2 separate regions of the Homo sapiens genome follow, and region 2 is linked to region 1. Evidence: fine-mapped expression QTL. Tissue or cell type: whole blood. Region 1 holds a variant in brackets; the other region holds the start of a gene. All regions are shown on one strand. Distances are between the middles of the regions.

What was found. PIP is the estimated chance that this variant, and not a neighbour inherited with it, causes the effect.
Region 2: VPS13C starts here. The variant in region 1 is fine-mapped to the expression of VPS13C in whole blood (TOPMed, PIP 0.93).

Annotation. Positions count from the first base shown.
Region 1 is chr15:62,013,665-62,021,850 of GRCh38, reverse strand. It overlaps VPS13C (vacuolar protein sorting 13 homolog C), which reads left to right. Exons shown (of 85, transcript NM_020821.3): 9 at 1,313-1,372; 10 at 7,859-7,918. Among named protein-coding and RNA genes, the nearest start is that of VPS13C, 43 kb to the left of the region's middle. The variant C/T (reference allele first, on the strand shown) is at 4,398.
Region 2 is chr15:62,055,747-62,063,932 of GRCh38, reverse strand. It overlaps VPS13C (vacuolar protein sorting 13 homolog C), which reads left to right and starts at 3,486. Exons shown (of 85, transcript NM_020821.3): 1 at 3,486-3,658. The coding sequence starts at 3,559. It overlaps VPS13C-DT (VPS13C divergent transcript), which reads right to left and starts at 3,430. Exons shown (of 2, transcript NR_135690.1): 1 at 3,090-3,430; 2 at 1,499-2,965. RefSeq lists an enhancer at 3,175-3,224 and a silencer at 3,275-3,624.

The DNA.
Region 1 (8,186 bases):
TAAAACAAATGAGTTTCTTCGGAAAGAGCTGCAGGTTTATTTTGAGCTGGTTATCTCTAAGTATAAAAAGAGAGTGTGGGAATAAAGGAAAATATTTTGCCACAAATCATTGTATATCTGATGTTAATTAAAATGACTTATAAAGCTATTCGTACTTCTCAACTGTACCACATGGATTTTTTTCCATTTAGAAAATTGTATGTGACTAAACTCTGGAGTCCCAGTTGGATGATTTAGAACATTATCCATTTCCCTTCTCCTTATTTCCCTTAGTTTCTGCCATGACCAAACAATTCTATAAGACTTTTCTTTAAGATGTCTAAAATGGTGATACTGTGCACACTGTGGTATAGTTTAAGCACTGTGGATTGCAACTTAGATATTGAAGATCAGAAATACAACAAAAACTTAATGTTGACAGATTTTGGATATAGAGACTAAAGAAATTAAATATTAAGGATCTAGAGATTTTCCTAGAAGCATTTTGAAGTGTTAAGAACATTAAAGGCTTAAAGAGATAGTTCATATTTCCAAGTATGAAAGCCTTTTTTTTAAAATGTGTAAATTTAAGGAGTACAAGTGCAGTGTTGTTACATGATATACTGCATAGTGGTGAAGTCTGAACTTTTAGTGTCTCCATCACCCATAATATACATTGTACCCATTAATAAATTTCCTATCATTTACACCTACTTCTCACCCACCCTACCCTTTCAAGTCTCCAATGTGTATTATTCCACACACTGACCACGTGTATTCATTATTTAGCTGCCACTTATAAGTGAGAACGTGCAGTTTGTTTTTCTGCTTCTGGGTTGTTTCACTTAAGATAATGGCCTCCAGTTCCATCCATGTTGCTGCAAAAAAACCCAAACAAACATGTTTTCCTTTTTTATGGCTGAATAGTATTCCACTATGTACCCTAAGTGTTATTAAAATGATTTAGTGGCAGTGTTATCTGTAACACCTTTTAAAATTTATCTGTGAAAAAATCTTTGATTATACACATAAAAAGATTATTCCTTTTTAACTGTCTAGAGAGAAGTCTTGTTAGTCATAGTTAGTGAGTCATCTTCTAGTATGAAAAGAGTTCCACTGGGAAAGGATCTTATTGGTAGCATAGAAATGTTATGTCTACAAAATATGGATAATCCCAGCCATGTTATTACCTCCTTCCCCTGTGTTTTCCACAAATCCATTTGGGTTGTATGGCTTAACCTGTAAACACATTTCCCTCTGCTGCCTATTGTAAAGGACATGGATTCGCCTTCACCATCAGCATATTTTACTGTTATCTTTTCTTCTTTGGTAGGTCACTGATCCAAAGCGGCCTCTTTCATTTGGTGTCACACTGGGAGAGCTTAGTCTACTGGTAATGTTTGCTTTATTTTAAACTTCTATGGAACCTGTAAAGTATTATTCTGAAGTCACAGGGTAAATTGTCTAGAATCAACTATGCGACAAAGAACTATGATTTTTTAAATATATTATCATGCTAAACAACTTTTCTAGAAGTTTAACATTTTTAGTGATGCTATTATTACATTTTAAAATTATTTTTGTCTTTCTGTGTAACAGGTATCAAAATATCATTATCAAATGATTTGAAAGAAATAAAAGCTGTATCTTAAACATGTGGGGGAAGTAGGGGAAGATGAATTTCTGTAGAGTCATGTACTCATCTTCGGTATAGGTAGATGGAATTTCTAAATAGCTTATAGATATGCATATGTTTATGTATGTGTGTGTGTGTGCGCACACTCATCTCATTGGGCAATATGTAAATTAATTTATTTTGATTATTTTATAATGAGTTTTTCTTTTAATGGTCTTTAACAGTAGACAGTGTGTGTCTGTATATATATACACACATACATATATATATATGTATATATATATATAGGCTGGACATTTTTATTTCTATTACAGGCAACTAAGTGGTAGGAAACATGTTTTGGGGCATGTATGGAGAGGAAGATGTGGTTCACTTAGATACTTTTAAAGTTAAGGACAGTACAGGAATTGAATTCAGCTCTGCACCAAGCAGACCCAATAGACATCTACAGAACTGTCCACCCCAAATCAACAGAATATACATTCTTCTCAGCACCACACCTCACCTATTCCAAAATTGACCACATAGTTGGAAGTAAAGCACTCCTCAGCAAATGTAAAGAACAGAAATTATAACAAACAGTCTCTCAGACCACAGTGCAATCAAACTAGAACTCAGGATTAAGAAACTCACTCAAAACCACTCAACTACATGGAAACTGAACAACCTTCTCCTGAATGACTACTGGGTGCATAACGAAATGAAGGCAGAAATAAAGATGTTCTTTGAAACCAACGAGAACAAAGACACAACATACCAGAATCTCTGGGACACATTAAAAGCAGTGTGTAGAGGGAAATTTGCAGCACTAAATGCCCACAAGAGAAAGCAGGAAGGATCTAAAATTGACACCCTAACATCACAATTAAAAGAACTAGAGCAGCAAGAGCAAACACATTCAAAAGCTAGCAGAAGGCAAGAAATAACTAAGATCAGAGCAGAACTGAAGGAAATAGAGACACAAAAAACCCTTCAAAAAATCAATGAATCCAGGAGCTGGTTTTTTGAAAAGATCAACAAAATCGATAGACTGCTAGTAAGACTAGTAAAGGAGAAAAGAGAGAAGAATCAGATAGACGCAATAAAAAATAGTAAAGGGGATATCACCACCGATCCCACAGAAATACAAAACTACCATCAGAGAATACTATAAACACCTCTACGCAAATAAACTAGAAAATCTAGAAGAAATGGACAAATTCCTCGACACATACACCCTCCCAAGACTAAACCAGGAAGAAGTTGAATCTCTGAATAGATCAATAACAGGCTCTGAAATTGAGGCAATAATTAATAGCTTACCAACCAAAAAAAGTCCAGGACCAGACGGATTCACAGCCGAATTCTACCAGAGGTACAAGGAGGAGCTGGTACCATTCCTTCTGAAACTATTCCAATCAATAGAAAAAGAGGGAATCCTCCCTAACTCATTTTATGAGTCCAGCAGCATCCTGATACCAAAGCCTGGCAGAGACACAACCAAAAAAGAGAATTTTAGACCAATATCCTTGATGAACATCGATGCAAAAATCCTCAATAAAATACTGGCAAACCGAATCCAGCAGCACATCAAAAAGCTTATCCACCATGGACAAGAAGGCTTCATCCCTGGGATGCAAGGCTGGTTCAACATACGCAAATCAATAAATGTAATCCAGCATATAAACAGAACCAAAGACAAAAACCACATGATTATCTCAATAGATGCAGAAAAGGCCTTTGACAAAATTCAACAGCCCTTCATGCTAAAAACTCTCAATAGATTAGGTATTGATGGGATGTATCTCAAAATAATAAGAGCTATTTATGAAAAACCCACAGCCAATATCATAGTGAATGGGCAAAAACTGGAAGCATTCCCTTTGAAAACTGGCACAAGACAGGGATGCCCTCTCTCACCACTCCTATTCCACATAGTGTTGGAAGTTCTGGCCAGGGCAGTCAAGCAGGAGAAAGAAATAAAGGGTATTCAATTAGGAAAAGAGGAAGTCAAATTGTCCGTGTTTGCAGATGACATGATTGTATATCTAGAAAACCCCATCGTCTCAGCCCCAAATCTCCTTAAGCTGATAAGCAACTTCAGCAAAGTCTCAGGATACAAAATCAATGTGCAAAAATCACAAGCATTCTTATACACCAATAACAGACAAACGGAGAGCCAAATCATGAGTGAACTCCCATTCACAATTGATTCAAAGAGAATAAAATACCTAGGAATCCAACTTACAAGGGACGTGAAGGACCTCTTCAAGGAGAACTACAAACCACTGCTCAATGAAATAAAAGAGGACACAAACAAATGGAAGAACATTCCATGCTCATGGATAGGAAGAATCAATATCGTGAAAATGGCCATACTGCCCAAGATAATTTATAGATTCAGTGCCATCCCCATCAAGCTACCAATGACTTTCTTCACAGAATTGGAAAAAACTACTTTAAAGTTCGTATGGAACCAAAAAAGAGCCCACATTGCCAAGTCAATCCTAAGCCAAAAGAACAAAGCTGGAGGCATCACGCTACCTGACTTCAAACTATACTCCAAGGCTACAGTAACCAAAACAGCATGGTACTGGTACCAAAACAGAGATACAGACCAATGAAACAGAACAGAGCCCTCAGAAATAATACCACACATCTACAACTATCTGATCTTTGACAAACCTGACGAAAACAAGCAATGGGGAAAGGATTCCCTATTTAACAAATGGTGCTGGGAAAACTGGCTAGCCATATGTAGAAAGCTGAAACTGGATCCCTTCCTTACACCTTATACAAAAAT[C/T]AATTCAAGATGGACTAAAGACTTACATGTTAGACCTAAAACCATAAAAACCCTAGAAGAAAACCTAGGCAATACCATTCAGGACATAGGCATGGGCAAGGACTTCATGTCTAAAACACCAAAAGCAATGGCAACAAAAGCCAAAATTGACAAATGGGATCTAATTTAACTAAAGAGCTTCTGCACAGCAAAAGAAACTATCATCAGAGTGAATAGGCAACCTACAGAATGGGAGAAAATTTTTGCAACCTACTCATCTGACAAAGGGCTAATATCCAGAATCTACAAAGAACTCAAACAAATTTAGAAGAAAAAAACAACCCCATCAACAAGTGTGCGAAGGATATGAACAGACACTTCTCAAAAGAAGACGCTTCTCAAAAGAAGACATTTATGCAGCCAACAGACACATGAAAAAATGCTCATCATCACTGGCCATCAGAGAAATGCAAATCAAAACCGCAATGAGATATCATCTCACACCAGTTAGAATGGCGATCATTGAAAAGTCAGGAAACAACAGGTGCTGGAGAGGATGTGGAGAAATAGAAACACTTTTACACTGTTGGTGGGACTGTAAACTAGTTCAACCATTGTGGAAGACAGTGTGGCGATTCCTCAGGGATCTAGAACTAGAAATACCATTTGACCTAGCCATCCTATTACTGGGTATATACCCAAAGGAATATAAATCATGCTGCTCTAAAGACACATGTACACATGTGTTTACTGCAGCACTACTCACAATAGCAAAGACTTGGAACCAACCCAAGTGTCCAACAGTGATAGACTGGATTAAGAAAATGTGGCACATATACACCATGGAATACTATGCAGCCATAAAAAATGATGAGTTCATGTCCTTTGTAGGGACATGGATGAAGCTGGAAACCATCATTCTCAGCAAACTATTGCAAGGACAAAAAACCAAACACTGCATGTTCTCACTCATAGGTGGGAATTGAACAATGAGAACACTTGGACACAGGAAGGGGAATATCACACACTGGGGCCTGTTGTGGGGTCGGGGGAGGGGGGAGGGATAGCATTAAGAGATATACCTAATGTAAATGACGAGTTAATGGGTGCAGCACACCAGCATGGCACATGTATACATACGTAACTAATCTGCACGTTGTGCACATGTACCCTAGAACTTAAAGTATAATAAAAATATATATATATATAAAATAAAGTTAAGGACAGTGAACCATATATCATACCAGACAAGTTTGCCTTATGACTACTTATATGGAGAGGGCCTCAATAAGGAAAGAAGAGGAAGAAGAATGGTAGGGTGGTAGACTGGCAGAGAAACAGAAAAAGAAGGACATGGTTATGTGGAAGGCTTCACAATGTTGTGGGCATATAGAGAAGTAGAGATACACATCGCATTGAAGAACAGAGCAGAAACAATAAAGAAAAAGAGAGAGCTGAAGAAACAAAGGAAAGGCAGTGAAGGAAACTAGTTTTTTTTTTTTTTTTTTTTTTTTGGACTTCTTTTTTTATTTTTTATTTTTATTATACTCTAAGTTTTAGGGTACATGTGCACATTGTGCAGGTTAGTTACATATGTATACATGTGCCATGCTGGTGCGCTGCACCCACTAACGTGTCATCTAGCATTAGGTATATCTCCCAATGCTATCCCTCCCCCCTCCCCCCTCCCCCGACCCCACCACAGTCCCCAGAGTGTGATATTCCCCTTCCTGTGTCCATGTGATCTCATTGTTCAATTCCCACCTATGAGTGAGAATATGCGGTGTTTGGTTTTTTGTTCTTGCGATAGTTTACTGAGAATGATGGTTTCCAATTTCATCCATGTCCCTACAAAGGACATGAACTCATCATTTTTTATGGCTGCATAGTATTCCATGGTGTATATGTGCCACATTTTCTTAATCCAGTCTATCATTGTTGGACATTTGGGTTGGTTCCAAGTCTTTGCTATTGTGAATAGTGCCGCAATAAACCATAAAAACCCTAGAAGAAAACCTAGGCATTACCATTCAGGACATAGGCGTGGGCAAGGACTTCATGTCCAAAACACCAAAAGCAATGGCAACAAAAGCCAAAATTGACAAATGGGATCTAATTAAACTCAAGAGCTTCTGCACAGCAAAAGAAACTACCATCAGAGTGAACAGGCAACCTACAACATGGGAGGAAACTAGTTTATCCTTTGCCTGTTTCCAAAATGAATTTGAGGTAGCTTTCGACAAAAACAAGTATACAGTAACACCTTTAAAGAGGATAGAATCTGTGTTCTAAAGGATAGAGAGAGAATTGTTCCAGAAAACTGTGACTAATGATAGTGGTCATAAGGGAGCAGAGTAACTTTGAGCTTCTAGCAGACAATGCAAAAAATACAAAATAGTCATATACCTCCTATTGTCTGATAACAGGTATACTATTGCATAAGAATGGGTAGTTTCCTTAGTGTTTGCTGCTGTTTGTCCCTTTGTATCTTTGCTCAGACTCTTCATTCTGCTTTAGTTGTCTGTATTACTTTCTGCCTGGTGATTCTACTCAAGTTTTAATACTTAAGTAATATATGACCTTTCTTTCTCATTCTTTTTCACTTCCTTCTTAGAATTTACCATTCCCTCTTTTATGCTTCCTATTGTATTTTGTCAAAGACCTGTAAAATATTATTGTACTGGTTATCATGTTAATCTCCTTCTGTCAAAACCACATTCATTCACTGAAGTAGTACCTACCTTTTAGTGTTTTTGTGATGATTAAATGAGATAGTTTATGTAAAGCTTTTGGCACATTGTCTGGCTCAATTATTTCCTGCTATTATAGTGGCTATTATAACAACTACAGCAATAGTAAACCTACCTCTTTTGTATCCATACCATTTATTTTTCTTTGCAATTACAATCTAACTTATAAATCTAAAGTTATCCTCCCACCTCTGATCTGGATCTCATTTTACCTATGTGCTCACTGTACTCTCACTCTACTACTCCACTGAAACAGTTCTTAACAAGTTTCTCAATAACGCCCTTGCTGCTAAATAAGTTTAGTGTTTGGTGTTGCTGAACATGCTGTCCTTGTAGAAACTTGGTCATGCTGTAATTTCCATACTCTCCTGGTTTTCTTCCTATTACAAAACAATTACTTGTTTTTTTAAAAAGAATGTATACCATATTCAATAGTGTATAGGCTGGCTCTCTGTTTTCATTCATACCTGATTCTTTCCACAGTTCAAATACATATTAACCCAGTAATTATTTTCTGAATGAATGAACTCAAATTAGAATCATGTCAATTCTCTTTTCATTGTTTCTTTGATTTTGTCTTATAAATATATGTAAAGAAATAGATAGCTAATACTAGTTAACATTAAGTAGATGTCATTTCTTCCTAAATTATTTTGTTACATTATGTAAGTATTAGAGCGCTATTAATGACATCCATACCACGTTTCACAGGTATTCCCTTTTTTCTTTTAGACTGCAAATGAACACTGGACTCCATGCATATTAAATGAAGCAGACAAAATTATATACAAGGTATTATGTTGGAATAAAAATTTTTGTTAGTTTCCTAGGTGCACTTAATTTATTTTCTTGAAGAAACATTGATGGAGCAGAATATGCCATTGGAGTGTGAGTTAAAAGTCTAGGGTCTAGTTTTGGCCCTGCTACTTACTATGTGACCCTCTGTAATCACTTACCAGTTCTGAGATATAGGTTCTTTACCTATCAAGTGAAGATACAGGATACAGTTAATACTTCCCAAATGGTACTTTATTAGATATTGAGATATTTTGAGATGTTG
Region 2 (8,186 bases), 42 kb before region 1:
CCCGGAACACACAAATCTACTCACAGGAAGACAGTGGCTGTTCCAAGCTCCCAGCTGTAGCTGTGGGAACATCCAGTATTGGAGCTGGAAAACAATTCTGTAAAGTGAGCATGAATAGACCACATACCATCAAGACCAGAGGTGCTCTAAGAGTAAAAGGAAATTAAACATTTTAAAGCATACTTACAAAAATATAGGAGGTTGAGTGTCAAGGAAAGCAAGAAGAGAGATTACAACCAATAAAACACCAGTGTTCTGACTTATGCATCTTGTTCAACACAACTAGAGTATGGGGTACTGGAAAGAATACAGAGCAGGGAGTCAGGACACTTGGGTTTGGGTTTTTGCTCTGACAGTCACTAACTTGTGGGACTTTGGGCAAACCCTTAATTCTCCCTGGCACTCAGTGTCTCCATCTGTCAATTGAGGGGGCTGGATTAACAGGATGATCCTCCCTCTGGCACTAACATTCTGAAATCCACTCCCGTGCTTTCTCCTAGTTAACCTCCCTAACTTTTCCTGCAGTCCATGGTGTCATGGCTTATACTCCAGCTTTCTCCTCCATTTCCTTTCCCCCAAATTCCTTCTGCTTTTCTCCAAAAACTCTAGGGTTGGGGAATAGGGTATGGGTGGTGGTTAGTGTGAAGTTTTTTTTTTTTTTTTAAACACTTTTGAGTTAATTTTTAAGTGTCCCTAACTTATACTTTTGTTTTTAACAGAAATACTTTGCTCATCTGTTTTTATTGTTTAGTCCCTCATTGAAGTTTAGTTTTGTAATTTCCTTTGTTGTCATTCTCATTGTTCTTAAGCCAGAATGAAGGCAAGAACTATAATTAATTAGAATGCTCATTTTCTTTAACCTCTGTTATCCAAATTATTTCTGATATAATGCCATACATAAGGGTGCTAATGGTGTTTCTTGACATTGGTTATAGTTTGTTTTAAATTGGGACTGTATATTTCTGACTTGTTAAATAATGGAAGATTTGGGGCATTACTGAATGCACATAATCAATCCCTTAAAACATGCTGAAAATGGAAAATAGTAAAATTTAAAGCTTTTTATACTACATGATAATAGCATTTTTTTGTACCAAAAATGTAGAGCCAAATTTTCCACTCTGAGATTTATTTTTTCTGTCATGAACCTTTCAAAGTAAGATCTCTGAAAATGACTAATAGCCCAGTGTTGATTAAATTGTATAATTACCAGAAGAGAAAAGGGTGGCAGTGCTCAGAGAATCAAAGGAAATTAATATCTGCTGTGTGACTTTGGGTAAGTCACTTAACATTCCCGAGCTTAATTTTTCTGTAAAATGAGGACCATACTACTACCTGCATTAGCTACCTCACAGCTCTTTTGTGAGGAGTACACAAAAATGCCTACCTTCGCATAATAATGACATGAGGCCTTACAAAGTATAACTGAAACATAATAAAATTGAATGATGCATATGAAAGCACATTTACACATTATTCTTTCAAAATTACCAAGTTATACCATAGAACTGTAAGGAATTACTTTATTAGACAAAGCATTAGTGTTACTCACTTCTCCCAAGAGATTGTGCCTATTGCTCCACCTGCTTGACCAAGCTATGTTGCCTGTGCCATCTTTCCTATCATCTTATACTGTTATTCATACATCCTTGGATTGGCTTCTTTCTTAACTTTTTATGGTACATGCCTTATCTCAACCAGAACATATATTGCTTCTTTACATTCCTCTTGGAGCATAGTCAGTGTGAATGTAAAAAGGAAGCGGGATTGTTAGAGTGTATGACTAGAAAGAACGTGGAGAAAGTTTGAAGAGAGTGTTCTAAACACTGGGAAGTTATTGGATGTTTTTGAGCAGGTGACTAACCTAAGCTCACCTGTGCTTTGGGAAAACACATCCGGTGTTCATGAGAATAGACTGGAGGAAGGAATAACTGGAGGCTAGGAAGTGAATTTCAAGGAGATGGATGGCATGGTCCAGAAGAAAAACATGGAGAATTTAGGAAAGATGGCAAAAGCAAAATAGACAGGTTAGGCTGTTATTTGGTTGTGGATGGTGAAGAAATCCAAAGTACTTACTAGTATTTTGTCTTTGTGACCAGCTAGGAAAAACAGACGGTTAAGGATTTATCTTCTTAAAGAGGAATGGAGTGTGCAAAAGTGGGAGAGGAATGTGATCTTGATAGTACTAGTTAGTACTGACTGGGTCTTTCTTTGTACTTTTAATTTTATTTAATACACAACACCAATTGTAGCCATTTTGATTTTCTTTCTTCTCCAGCGGACTTTGAATTTAAGATTTTTCTTTGTGATCCTGTGCAAGCCTAGGTTGTTTAAGAAAAATACACGAATAGTTTCTCAGACACTTCCTCGTAGCAAAGCACTTATTAATGCTTGTGACTACAAATAATCAGCATTTCTTAGGTTTCTTCCTGTGTACTGTATCTCAACAACTTTTTGAAATATATTTTAGGAAAAAATTTCTAGTTCTCTAAAGAGGTGAATCTCAATGGGTGGTTAAATTTCACAAGGGTTGAAAGATCTTGTGGTATAAAAGCTCTGCTTTTAAGGTCGTGCTACATCAAAGACAGTTCAACGATAGCATGGAAGAAAGTGATATATAAATAACAAGTAACTCATACTTAAAAAGGCACTACTACGTTTTGTTTTTTATATCTGTAATGAGATAGGTAACTGGTTAGTGGCTAGTGAATTAAAAGCGAATCTTAGAGAAAGGGGAAAAGAACGCGTTTCCCACAAAACGCGTATATTCAGTTCTCATTCTATGATATCTGCCATTTGATGTGGTTCTGTTCCCCTCCTCCCACTTTCAAATTATTTGTCGCGCGCCAGTGGTCCCAGCTACTCGGGAGGCTGACACAGGAGGATCTCTTGAGTCCAGGATGTCAAGTCTGTAGTGAGCTATGATCCCGACACTGCATTCTACCCTTGGCAACAGAGCGAGACCCTGTCTCAAAACAAAACAAAACAGAAACAAAATAAAAAAACAATGTTTTCAAGAAGCAGAGACCAAGCCCCAGGCGGAGTCGAACTCTAGCAGGACAAGAACGCGGTCGGTCCCTTTCCCCCACCTGATCCACAGGTGCAGGGGTGGTTGCCTAGGTGACGCTCAGCGCATACTCCAGGCCAGGCGGCTCCGGACACCGCGATGCGGCCGGAGTTCAACAGCAGGTGACGGCGGGAAAGCAGAGCGGCCACATAGATGTCCCTGTACTCGGTAACTCTTGCCCTCCCTTGTTCTTCTCGAAGGTCCTTTTTTTTCTCGTGCACGGCTGACGAGACAGGCGCAAGCTAACTTCCCCCGCACTCCTCCGTCGGCCTCTAGAGGGCCAGGGCTGCGGCGCCTACAAAGCCTCGGGATCACAGCTGGGCCTCCTTAGCTACCGGCCGGGCGACAGCGCGCCTGCGCACCGGCGGGGTCACGCGCGCGGCGCGGGGGTGGGCCTGCGCCGGAGGGGCTGTCATTTGCAGCGCTGGTCGCAGCCCTCAGCTGCGCCGGGCGGTTCCGGCTCCTCCCTCTCCTTGTGCCTCAGCGCCACCATGGTGCTGGAGTCGGTGGTCGCGGACTTGCTGAACCGCTTCCTGGGGGACTATGTGGAGAACCTGAACAAGTCCCAGCTGAAGCTGGGCATCTGGGGCGGTAAGCGAGAGGGCGCGGCCAGTGGGCTGCGGGCGCTGAGGGCCCAGCCGAGGGCTGCTCCGTCCGGGATTCTGCCCGGGCCCTGCTCCCTGCGCCGCCTGAGACTCCCCATCCCGGTGCGGCAGGTGCTAGATGCGGGAGCCTCTGCCGCCCGCGGATTCTCGGGGTCCCAGTCCCGACTCCGGCTGGGGAGATGCGGCGGGATCCCGCCCGCGCTGCCAAAGTTCCCACCTTTCTCGTCCCCCGAGGCCAAGCCCTGGCCCTGCTGTCCCCGCCCTGCCCGTTTCTGTGGTCCTCTCGCTGCACTCAGGGTGGCCCCTTTGGCCCTACAGCATAAAAACAGAGCCCTTTCTGTTTCGGTATCGCGTGGAGTGAGCATGGTTGTCTGGTCATATACGCTCGAAGTGGCACTAAGAAAAAAGGAGGAAGTTGCATCTCGCAGTTATCTTCACTATCATTTTACAGGGAGCAAGAACTGGGTTCCTTCTCTTTAGGATTACCGGGTTTGGAGAGGAACGGGCAGGAGATCTTTAAGATAGGCGTGTGCTTAGGGATTCTTACTCTTAATGCTTTCAGCTCCTGTGAAAATGATTTCTTCCTTTAATATTTACTTTTCCGTCAATACGAAGAGGATTTTGAATTTTGTTTTGGAGCAATAGAGAGAAATTCAAGCCTCGACCAGCATCGTCATTAATTAGGTGTCTGCTTGGTTGCATGCTCAGGAATTTATGCCAACGTTTTTATCCTGGAGATTAAGTGTATAAAAGTATTCAGGAAATAGTGTACTTAAACATACACTCTTCAACGAGCTTAATCGTTTGCATGAATTACGTGTTAAGCTTTGAGGACTTTGGGACTTTCTCACTCCACAAAAGGTTTGGGAACTTTGTCAGCTTTGGAGGAAAATTCAAAAAACGACTCAAATGTATGGATCTGCTTTTAATTCAAGCAACAACAAATAGCTATAGACTTCCCCTGTCCACTAGGGTAACCACTAGCCACTGTAGCTGTGGAGCACTTGATATGAGGTTAGTGCTAATTGAGACTTGCTGTATGAATTAAAACATCGTTTTGAATAAGCATTACTCCTAATGAAGTAGGAGAAAAAAATAATACCTCAATAATTTTTATGTTGCTTATGTGTTGAAATAATATTTGAATATATTGGGTTAAATTAAATATAATATTAAAGTGTATTTCCCGTGTTTTTTAGTTTTACTTTTTTTCTTTTTAAACTTGGCTTCTAAAATTTATAATTACGTATATGGAACATATATTGGGCAATGCTGTTTATACCCTGAATTACGGAAGAGCCTGGTTGTTGTTGTTGTTGTTTTTTTTTTTTGGCTTGTCTTTTTGAGACAAGGACTTGCTCTGTTGCCAAGGCTGGAGTGCAGTGGCAAGATCGTAGCTCATTGCAGCCTCCAACTCCTGGGCTGAAGTGATCCTCCTGCCTCAGCCTCCCAAAGTGCTAGGATTACAGGTGTGAGCTATAGTGCCTGGCAAGAGCCTGTTTTTAATAGGTGGCTGATCATTTGATTGGTTCACTGTGGTTTGCCCAACAATACAATAGTCCCTTGGTATCTATGGGGGATTGGCTTCAGTACCCCTGACCATACCAAAATTGGAGGTTGCTCAAGTCCCTTAAATAAAATGGCCTAGTATTTGTATGTACCCTATGCATATCCTTCTGTATACTTTTGGTCATCTCTGGATTGCTTATAATACCCAATAAGTAAGTGCTATGTAAATAGTTGTTCTGTTGTTTTTTAATTTGCATTTTTTTATTGCTGAATTGATACTTTTTATTTTTTCCCCCCGAAATATTTTTGGTCTGCAGTTAGTTCAGTCCGTGAATATGGAGGGCCTACTGTACATTCTTTGTTTACATCCCCCCACCACACTCAATACAATGTAAAGGAAAGGTAAGTAAAGAAAGACACATTTAAGGAATTAAATGACCAGCATCTTCTGCAGAAATCAAGTATTTCTTCAGAATACTGGCAATATTCTTTCCAGTGATTCCTTATAGTTTGTAAACATTTGAAACTTGAAAACGCACCGGAGTAGCAAATCTGAAATCTGAATAGGCCTAGTGAATGGTGTGCTGTGTTGGACAAGCCACTTACCTTATTGGGCCTTAGTTTCTTCATCTTAATTTAAACTTTATAGAAAAAATATTTTTAAATTCTGAAAAGTTTAAATCATACTGGATGATATAATACTTTCATGTAATTACTCATATTTCAATGTTATAATATTATGCCATATTTACTTTAGACATTTTCTTTTTAAAAAGATAAAACGTATGGATATAGTCAGAGGTTCCATTGCCATCAAATGTTACTCTCTTTTATCTTTAAAATTGGAGGTTGGACTAGGTAACATCGAAGGTGATGCCAATATTCTGTTCTTCTGATAATGGTTTTACCATGACATTGAGGAGTATACTGCTTGAAGATTTTGAAGTTTTTCACAACTGAAATTAAAAATGTCGTAATTTTATGTTATTTCCCCTTTTGTCTTTTTTTGGTGAAATCTAGAAAAGGAGACTTTCTTTCATCTCATTTTTAAATTTTTAGAATAAGGTATTCTGCCAGTGGCCAACATTAACTTTATAATAGGCCTGAGCAAATAAACCCATTTCTTTCACATATTGTGTCTAGTGAACATCCAATCAGGGATTCTCCTAGCTTTATCAGCTCACAACTCTGCCTCTGTAAAGCTTTGCTGCCTTTTATTTTTGTGGTTGCTATAAAGCTAGAAGTCACGAGCTTTTATCATTATTGCACAGTCTGTTGTTGATAACCCTAATTTCTCAATAAAATTGGAAGGCAAGATATCTGAGTTGATTTTTCCTGTTCTTTCAAAATATTGCTAAAGAAATTTGTCTTAAACTTTTTTGGGTAAACAAATGGGAATATTAATTTAATAAAATAGGTGACATTTTATGATAACCATGATGTTGACAAGTTTTACAAAAAATTGAAAATTCTATATAATCTTCTTTGACAACTATTTGCTTTAGCAGATAAGGTTTACAGTTCACAGAGTTTTTTTTTTGTTGTTGTTGTTGAATTTTCAAGTCTTGAGAAAGGGAAGAATTCATCTTGTAAATATTTCACTGTAGGGACCAGCCCCACAGGGTCGGTGGGTCTCTCCCTGTGTGCGGCGACGAGAGAGTGTAGAAATAAAGACACAAGACAAAGAGATAAAAGAAAAGACAGCTGGGCCCGGGGGACCGCTACCACCAATGCGCGGAGACCGGTAGTGGCCCCGAATGTCTGGCTGCGCTGTTATTTATTGGATACAAAGCAAAAGGGGCAGGGTAAAGAGTGTGGGTCATCTCCAATGATAGGTAAGGTCACGTGGGTCACGTGTCCACAGGACAGGGGGCCCTTCCCTGCCTGGCAGCCGAGGCAGAGAGAGAGAGGAGACAGAGAGAAAGATAGCTTATGCCGTTATTTCTGCATATCAGAGACTTTTACTACTTTCACTAATTGACTACTGCTATCTAGAAGGCAGAGCCAGGTGTACAGGATGGAACATGAAGGCGGACTAGGAGCGTGACCACTGAAGCACAGCATCACAGGGAGACGGTTAGGCCTCCGGATAACTGCGGGCAAGCCTGACTGATGTCAGGCCCTCCACAAGAGGTGGAGGAGCAGAGTCTTATCTAAACTCCCCCGGGGAAAGGGAGCCTCCCTTCCCTGGTCTGCTAAGTCGCGGGTGTTTTTCCTTGACACTTTTCGCTACCGCTAGACCACCTTCCGCTCGGCAACGGGCGTCTTCCTAGATGCTGGCGTTACCGCTAGACCAAGGAGCCCTTCTGCTGGCCCTGTCCGGGCATAACAGAAGGCTCGCACTCTTGTCTTCTGGTCACACCTCACTATGTCCCCTCAGCTCCTATCTCTGTATGGCCTGGTTTTTCCTAGGTTATGATTGTACAGCGAGGATTATTATAATATTGGGATAAAGAGTAATTACTGCAAACTAATGATTAATGATATTCATATATCTCTAAGATCTATATGGTATAACTATTCTTGTTTTATATTTTATTATACTGGAACAGCTCGTGTCCTTGGTCTCTTGCCTTGGCGCCTGGGTGGCTTGCCGCCCACCTCACATACCTGATCTTACTATTCTTTGGAATCAATTGATAAACTACTTTGATACATCTTAACTGGAATGTCTAACTAGCCTAAAGCAGTGATTTTCAGTGGGAGGTGACTTTGTACCCAGGGTATATTTGACAGTGTCTGAGACTTTTTGGTTGCCACACTGAGGGAAGAGGTGTGCTATTGGCATGTAGCAGATAGACCCTGGAGTACTGCTAAACATTCTACAATGCAGAGGACAACTTCCTGCAGCGAATTGTCCAGCTCAAAATGTTAGTTGAGAAACCCTAGTCTAAGAAGAAGACTGAGATTGTCTTCTGCATTTGTAAGGGACCTACTGGGTGCTGAAAAAATTGTAAGGTTTTAAAAAGGACACGGAAGAAGTAGATTACTCTTAACGAAATCTG